Regions from separate parts of the Homo sapiens genome. Here region 1 is reported to be linked to region 2. Evidence: microRNA targets listed by miRTarBase, many of them from high-throughput screens and not tested one by one. Region 2 holds a microRNA gene; the other region holds the end of a gene's coding sequence.

Evidence for each region. The annotated mature microRNA hsa-miR-6724-5p reads CUGGGCCCGCGGCGGGCGUGGGG and lies in region 2 at 2,540-2,562, opposite strand. An mRNA with a match to its seed (bases 2 to 7 or 8) in the 3' UTR can be bound and repressed. Matches are read on the target gene's strand: a 7mer-m8 pairs with bases 2 to 8, a 7mer-A1 pairs with bases 2 to 7 and ends in A, and an 8mer does both.
Region 1: the mRNA of OSCAR is a reported target of hsa-miR-6724-5p. The part of its 3' UTR that is shown has no 7-base or 8-base seed match.

The regions. Positions count from the first base shown.
Region 1 is chr19:54,091,578-54,095,951 of GRCh38, reverse strand. OSCAR (osteoclast associated Ig-like receptor) reads left to right here. Exons shown (of 5, transcript NM_133169.6): 4 at 1-80; 5 at 595-1,284. The coding sequence ends at 731. Among named protein-coding and RNA genes, the nearest start is that of OSCAR, 7.0 kb to the left of the region's middle.
Region 2 is chr21:8,247,703-8,252,076 of GRCh38, reverse strand. MIR6724-2 (microRNA 6724-2) reads right to left here and starts at 2,572; the gene lies at 2,481-2,572.

The DNA.
Region 1 (4,374 bases), not on the chromosome of region 2:
CTACAGCTGCTACTATCACACGCCCTCCGCGCCCTACGTGCTGTCGCAGCGCAGCGAGGTGCTGGTCATCAGCTGGGAAGGTGAGGGCCCTGAGGCCCGGCCCGCCTCCTCCGCCCCAGGAATGCAGGCCCCAGGACCTCCGCCCTCAGACCCAGGAGCCCAGGCCCCCAGCCTCTCCTCCTTCAGACCCAGGGGTCTAGTCCTGCAGCCCCTCCTCCCTCAGACCCAGGATTCCTGGGACCCAGCCCCTCCTCCCTCAGATCCAGGAGTCTAGTCCTCCAGCTCCTCCTCCCTCAGACCCAGGATTCCCGGGCCCCAGTACCTCCTCCCTCAGACCCAGGACTCCAGGCCCCCAGCCCCTCCTTCCTGGACCCAGGACTCCAGGCCCCCAGCCCCTCCTTCCTGATCCAGCAGTCCAGGCCCCAGCCCCTTCTTCCTGGACCCAGGAGTTGAAGCCTCCATCGACTCCCCCTCAACTTTGAGACTGTAGAGTCAGGTCCCTAAGTCCACCCCAGGGGCTGGAAACCTGGAGTTCAGGGCCCAGACTTTGGGGTCCGGGAGCTGATGGCCCCTCTCTCCCGGCTCCGCCCGCAGACTCTGGCTCCTCCGACTACACCCGGGGGAACCTAGTCCGCCTGGGGCTGGCCGGGCTGGTCCTCATCTCCCTGGGCGCGCTGGTCACTTTTGACTGGCGCAGTCAGAACCGCGCTCCTGCTGGTATCCGCCCCTGAGCCCCAGGAGCACTGCAGCCCGAGACTTCCAACCTGAGTGGCGGAGAAGCTGGGACCCTGGGCTGGACTGTCCTTTCCTGCAGCCCCACAGTCCTGCTGGCTGAGCTCCGCGGAACGGTCCTTAGACCCCGCTGTGCCCTGTGCTGTAGCTTCTTTCCAGGCCTTTCCCAAGGAGTAGCTGAAAGGAAGACGCGATTAGTGGTTAAGACTTCCAAGCCAGAAGACAGAGGGTTCGAATCCCAGCACTGCCGTCTACTCACTGTAGTAGTAGCAGCTACAGAAAGGTAGTAGTGAGACGTGAAGCCAGCTGGACTTCCTGGGTTGAATGGGGACCTGGAGAACTTTTCTGTCTTACAAGAGGATTGTAAAATGGACCAATCAGCACTCTGTAAGATGGACCAATCAGCGCTCTGTAAAATGGACCAATCAGCAGGACACGGGCGGGGACAATAAGGGAATAAAAGCTGGCGAGCGCGGCACCCCACCAGAGTCTGCTTCCACGTTGTGGGAGCTTTGTTCTCTTGCTCTACACAATAAATCTTGCTGCTGCTAACTCTTTAGGTCCGTGCCATCTTTAAGCGCTGTAACACTCACCACGAAGGTCCCTGGCTCCATTCTTAAAGTCAGCGAGACCACAAACCCACAGGAAGGAACCAACTCTGGACACGGTAGCAGCATTCAGAAAGCGCCCTTCCCCAACTCTCTCTTGCCTTGACGGTAAAATGGATGCACTGATAAAACCCACTTCATAGGATTGTTGTAGGAGTCAGTGGGTAATACACATAAAACATTTAAAGCAGTAACTGGCCCGTAGTAAGTGTTCAATAAATGTTAGCTACCCTGTAACACCGATTTCTACCAGACTCAGTGCCGAAAGGAAGGTCTCACCTTTTTGCCATCAAGCATAATCAAGCACGACTTTTTCTTTCTTTCTTTCTTTCTTTTTTTTGAGAGAAGATCTCACTCCACCCAGGCTGGAGTGCAGTGGCGTGATCTCGGTTCACTGCAACATCCGCCTCCCGGGTTCAAGTGATTCTCGTGCCTCAGTCTCCTGAGTAGCTGGGATTACAGGTGTGCGCCATCACGCCCAGCTAATTTTTGTATTTTTAGTAGAGATGGAGTTTTGCCAAATTGGCCAGGGTGGTCTCGAACTCCTGACCTCAAGTGATCCACCTGCCTCGGCCTCCCGAATAGCTGGGATTACAGGTGCGTACCACCATGTCCGGCTAATGTTTGTATTTTTAGTAGAGACGGGGTTTCACCATGTTGACCAGACTGGTCTTGAACTCCTGACCTCAAGTGATCCGCCCGCCTCAAGAACTGAATTTTGAAGTCTAATTAGCCACCTGGGGGCGCTAACGTGTTGAAAAGACGGGAGGAGAGACTGAGCGGGTCTTCCGGGGTTTGATCTCAGTGCCAGAGGGGCCTTGGTAGAACATATGTGGGACAACCTCCCCGGCATATGTGGCTGTGGGAAATAATAACAATTTTAAAAAAGGAATAAGCCGGGGGTGCTGGCTCACACCTGTGATCCTAGCACTTTGGGAGGCTGAGGCAGGTGGATCACGAAGTCAGAAGTTCGAGACCAGCCTGGACAACATGGTAAAACCCCGTCTCTACTAAAAATACAAAAATTAGCCGGGCATGGTGGCGGGCGCCTGTAATCCCAGCTACTCGGGAGGCTGAGGCAGGAGAATTGCTTGAACCCAGGAGGCGGAGGTTGTAGTGAGCCGAGATTGCATCACTGCACACTCCAGCCTGGGTGACAGAGCAAAACTCCGTCTCAAAAAAAAAAAAAAAAAAAAAAGAATAAAGAAGAGACGCAGGTTATAAGGAAGGCACCAGACCTGGATGAGGCTGTGATGTCATCAAATCCAGTCTTCCCACTTTATAAATGGGAAAATGGTGGAAAGAGAGGTGATATTAAGTTTACCTAAACATGTACAGGAAGTCAGTGGCACATCAGGGAGTCTTTTTTTTTCCTTTTTCCCTCTTTTTTTATTTTATTTTATTTTATTTTATTTTTTTTGAGGTGGACTTTCGCTCTTGTTGCCCAGGCTGGAGTGCAATGGCGCCATCTCGGCTCACCACAACCTCCGCCTCCCAGGTTCAAGTGATTCTCCTGCCTCAGCCTCCCGAGTAGCTGGGATTACAGGTGTGAGCCACCACACCTGGCTAATTTTGTATTTTGAGTAGAAACAGGGTTTCTCTGTGTAGGTCAGGCTGGCCTCGAACTCCCAAACTCAGGTGATCCGCCCGCCTCAGCCTCCCAAAGTGCTGGGATTACAGGCATGAGCCACCGTGCCCGGCCCTCTTTTTTTTAAAATGTATTTCCACCCAAAGCAGAGAAAAAGAAGTCTTGGCCGAGTTTGTACTTCAACTTAACTCCATGTATTCATCCATTCAATCACTCCTTCATTCACCATTCACTCATTCATGTCTAGCATTGATTCTCATCCTTATTCATTTCTATTGAGCATCTCTTTTTCCTTTGCTTTCATTTGTACATTTGTCTATTTCATTTGTCCTTATCCATCATGCATTCATTCATATTTCCATCCATTTACCCATCCATTTCTTCATTAACCAGTTTTTAATCCACTGAACTATTTATTCATTCAATATCCATCTATCTACCTGTGCATTTATCTATCCAATAAGCTTGAGATTTTTTTTCTTTTTGAGATGGAGTCTTGCTCTGTTTCCCAGGTTGGAGTGCAGTGTTGTGATCTCAGCTCACTACAATCTCCACCTCCCGGGTTCAAACGATTCTCCTGCCTCAGCCTCCCAAGTAGCTGGGATTACAGGCACCTGCCACCATGCCCGGCTAATTTTGTGTTTTTAGTAGAGATGGGGTTTCACCATGTTGGCCAGGCTGTTCTCGAACGCTTGACCTAAAGTGATCCATCTGCCCACCTTGGTCTCCCTTTAAAGTGCTGGGATTACAAGCGTGAGCCACTGCACCCAGCTGAGATTTCTTCATAGCAGTTTACCAGTGACCAGTGTTCAATGAATGCTTATTGAGTGAGTTGTAGTCACAATGCTTATTTCATTTTCTACCACTGAACATCTTTTCATACTGGTCATTTTGCTGGGTGATCCACATAGGTTATTTCTGATCTTTATCAACAGCCCCCAAGTCACACAGAAGTGCTTAACTTGGGACTTGTCTGTGTGGTTAGACTGCTGGGTCTTTTCCCCCTGTTCCTGCCTCTTAAAGCAATGACAACACTGCCATCACCACGCCTGGCCAATTTATTATTACTATTATTATTATTATTTTTTTTTGAGATGGAGTCTCGCTCTGTTGCCAGGCTGTAGTGCAATGACGCGATCTCGGCTCACTGCAACCTCCGCCTCCTGGGTTCAAGCGATTCTCCTGCCTCGGCCTCCCGAGTAGCTGGGATTACAGGCGTGTGCCACCACCACGCCCAGCTAACTTTTGTATTTTTAGTAGAGATGGGGTTTCACCATGTTGGCCAGGATGGTCTCGATCTATTGACCTCGTGATCCACCCGCCTCGGCCTCCCAAAGTGCTGGAATTACAGGCGTGAGCCACCGCGCCCGGCTAATTGTTTACTTTTTATAGCTATGGGGTCTCACCATGTTGTCCAGGCTGGTCTTGAATGCCTGGCCTCAAGCC
Region 2 (4,374 bases):
GCCCCCACCGTGGGACGCTTTCCCAGGGCCAGGCGGGCCCGACCCCGTGCCACGCAAACGCGGTCGTCGGCACCGGTCACGACTCGGCACGGGAGCGGGCGGAGAGCCGACTCGCGGCGGAGGGAGTCACGCGCCGGACAGAGCGCCGGGCGCGCACACCCACCGCCCGCCGGCCGCCGCGTCCCAACCCGCTGGGACGCCGGGCCCGGCCCGGCGGGATCCTCCCCCGACTCGGAAGGGGGAGGCGCGGGCCACAGTAGGCGACGAGCCGCACTCGGCCACCACCGCGGTGGCCGGCGGAACCCTCGCTTCTCCCCCCCAACCCCGTCGAGGGGGAAGCGGAGGAGGGTCCTCTGCGAGCGGGTCGCTACGGCAGCGCTACCATAACGGAGGCAGAGACAGAGGCGGCGGCCCGGGGGATCCGGTACCCCCAAGGCACGCCTCTCAGATCGCTAGAGAAGGCTTTTCTCACCGAGGGTGGGTCACACTCCCCCCACCCGCCAGCCGCTCCTCCTCGGGCCCGCAGAGGCGCCGAGGGACGCCTGGGGAAGGGAGGGGGCCCTGCGGTACGAGGAAACACCTGCGCGCGGCCACCTCGAGCGTTCGCGTTCAGGGCGGGGGCCCGGCCGGTGCGCGCGTGCGCGCAACCCCACCAGGCCCCCCCGTCCACCCACCTCCTTCCTTCCGAGGCAGAGCGCCTCCGAAGTCAACCCACACACGACCGGTCGGAGGCAGAACGGCAGCCCCTCGGCGGCCGGCCGGCGCACGCGTCACACCGGCCCGAACCCACCGCGATCGCTCACACGGCCCGCGCGCACCCGCCAGAGGGGAGCACGGGACGTGCGCTCACCGAGAGCAGGCGGGCGCCCTTCCCCGCGTGGGAGGGGCGCGTCTCGTCTCGTCTCACTCAAACCGCCCCGAACCCCACACCGACGAGCTCCCTCAGGACCCACGCGCGGACACCGCGGCGGCGACCGGAGGAGGGGGCGCCGGGGGCGGGAACGACACACCACCGTTCGGCCTCGGGCACCTGAGGGACAACCCGGAGCGCTCCAGGAGCACCGCAAGGGCCCAGGCGGAGCCGACGCTCGCGCAAACCCCCCGAGAGGGCAGCACGACGGGCCGGCGGGACGGCACCCCCACCGCCGCGGAGGGGGGCCGCCCGCAAGTCGACAACCACTGGAGGCGACAGCGAGGGCTGTCTGCCGCGTCAGAGGACCCCGCCGGCCCGCACCCGCGACGCAGAAGGCGGCGGGCGGGACGGCGAGGTCGGGCCGGGGTCCGCACCCCACGCCTTCCCACACGCACCGCCGGCGGGCGGGGAGAGGAGAGACGAGGGGACCCCCGCGGGGCGGAGCGAGAAGGACGGTCCCGTTCGCCACGAACGTCCGCCCCTCGCCCGTCGCGGCTCGGACCCGGCCCGGGAGAGCACGACGTCACCACATCGATCACGAAGAGCCCCCCGGGAGCGGAGGCCGGCCGGCCGGCCAGCGAGCCGATCGGCTCCGGCCAACCCCCCACTCCGGGGAAGGGGCGGCGGACAACCCCGCGGAGACGAGAACGCCTGACACGCACGGCACGGAGCCAGCGGGGTGGGGTTGTCGCGGCCGCCCCGGGCGCCCGCAGCGGAGAGCGCACGGGGGCACGGTGGCCCTCGCCGCCTTCCCCGCCGCCCCCGGGTGGGTCAGAGACCCGGACCCGGGCCGGCACCGGGAGTCGGGACGCTCGGACGCGCGAGAGAACAGCAGGCCCGCGGGCCCCGGCAGGCGGCTCAAGCAGGAGCGCGGCCGGCTAGCCGGGTCACCGGTAGGCCAGAGCCCCGCGCGCATCCGGAGGCCCAACCTCTCCAGCGACAGGTCGCCAGAGGACAGCGTGTCAGCAATAACCCGGCGGCCCAAAATGCCGACTCGGAGCGAAAGATATACCTCCCCCGGGGCCGGGAGGTCGCGTCACCGACCACGCCGCCGGCCCAGGCGACGCGCGACACGGACACCTGTCCCCAAAAACGCCACCATCGCAGCCACACACGGAGCGCCCGGGGCCCTCTGGTCAACCCCAGGACACACGCGGGAGCAGCGCCGGGCCGGGGACGCCCTCCCGGCCGCCCGTGCCACACGCAGGGGGCCGGCCCGTGTCTCCAGAGCGGGAGCCGGAAGCATTTTCGGCCGGCCCCTCCTACGACCGGGACACACGAGGGACCGAAGGCCGGCCAGGCGCGACCTCTCGGGCCGCACGCGCGCTCAGGGAGCGCTCTCCGACTCCGCACGGGGACTCGCCAGAAAGGATCGCGGCAGAGGGACCGCGGCCCGGCCCGGGGACCGCTCCCCGGCACCCGGGGGACGGGGGCGGGACGGTCCCCGGCTCCCCACGGGGACTCGGAAACGAATTCGGCCGCCGCCTCAGACGGCCAGGATGAGCGCGGACCCGCGACCGGGCCGGGAAGGGCGTCCCCAGCCTCCCGCGCCACGCGCGGCGGGTCCCCGCGGGTCGCGGCTCGGGCCTCGGGAGCTACGGCGCGCTGGTCGACCGGCCCGGGCAGCCCCACGCCCGCCGCGGGCCCAGAAGCGCAGCGACAGCCTCTCCCCCACATAAACCTGCACGCCAGAGCTGTGACTCACAAGCGACGCGCCACAGCTCTGGCGCCACCGGGCCAGCCGGGCTGACGACCGGGGCTTTCCGGAGCTCTGCCTAGCTCACAGCGGGGACGGTCCCCTCCCTCGGCAGCTGCCACCGCAGCTCCGGAAGCCGAGAGCACGATCTCAAAGCGGCCGCCAGATGGAGCCCGACAACCGCCGCGGACGTCAGCGAGACAGATCCGGCTGGCAGGGCGGCCCGTGGACCGCGAAAGCGAAACCGTGAGTCGAGAAGCTCTTCCCGAGGCCGAAAACGCAGCCCCTCTGCCCCAACCCCACACAAACGGTGCCCAAAACGCGTCTCTGCCTCGACCGCGACAGAGTCAGAAGACAACCCACGGCGCGTGGGTGTTTGGAGATGCCTCTCGGAAGCAGGGAGGGAGGGAGGGAGGGAGGGAGGGAGGGAGAAAGAACACACAAGGACTCGGTCGCGGGTCGCTGCAGACACACGGAGAGGCAGAATGCGTAGGCTCTTCCGGAATCCACGCAGAGACAGACGGGGGGAGGGGAGTGGGGAAAAGAGACAGATGGCGAAAGGGAAGGAGGGAGGGAAGGGAGCAGGGAGGGAGGGAGGGAGGGAGGGAGGAAGACAATGGAGAAAAGAGAGACAATTTAGAAAACGTAGATACACAAAGTAAACTTCTGAAACACTCCATTTTTTAAAAGACAGACGGGAAGGAAAGAAACACGAAAAAGAGAGAAAGAATGAGGAAAGAAACGAAGGAAAGAAGGGAAAAAGAAACAGAGAGGAAAGAAAAAAGAAGGAAACACAGGGAACGAAAGAGAAATAAAGCACGAAGGAAAAAAGGACAGAAAGAGAGAAAGAAGGAAAGGAAGAGAGGAAGAAAAACCTAAAGAAGGAGAGAAAGGAAGAAAGGAAGGAAGAAAAACACGAAGGAGAGGAAGAAAGAAAACAGAGATAACTACGTACGCTCGTTCATTTACACACATAAATACGACGCTTTTCATACGTAAAATAAACGTCTTTATCGACGATCCCTTCTTTATAGAGCGATGTGTATTTATTTGTATAACACAGACACCTACATCTATCATACAGAAGTCTATTTCCATACAACCGATACGTATTTACCATACGCAAGAGTATTCAATGCAGAGATACACGTTGTCGTTGTTTGCATATAAGCGTACAGAAACGTTTACATTAATACATATAAGTAAACGCGTGGAAACGAAAGAAATAAAAAAGCGAAATGAGTCAACAGGCCGGGCACGGTGGCTCACGCCCGTCATCCCAGCACTTCGAGAGGCCGAGGTGGGCGCATCACAGGAGGTCGGGAGTTGGAGACCAGCCTGAGCAACATGGAGAGACACGGCGTGCCTACTAAAAACACAAACATCAGCCAAGCCAGGCGTGGGGGTGCCTCCCTGTAATCCCCGCTAATCGGGAGGCTGAGGCAGGAGAAGCGCTCGAACCCGGGAGGCGGAAGGTGCGGTGAGCCAAGATCGCGCCATTGCACTCTAGCCGTGGAAACAAGAGTGAAACTCTGTCTCAAAAGGACGAAACAGAAAGAAAGAAAGAAAGAAAGATAGAAAGAAAGAAAGAAAGAAAGGAAAGAAAGAAAGAATGAATGAATGAAAGAAAAGAAAGCAAGAAAGAAAGAAAAAGAAAAGAAAGAAAGAAAAGAAAGCAAGAAAGAAAGCACGAAAGCAAGCAAGCAAGAAAGCAAGAAAACAAGGAAGCAAGAAAGCAAGCAAGAAAGAAACAAAAGAAAGAAAG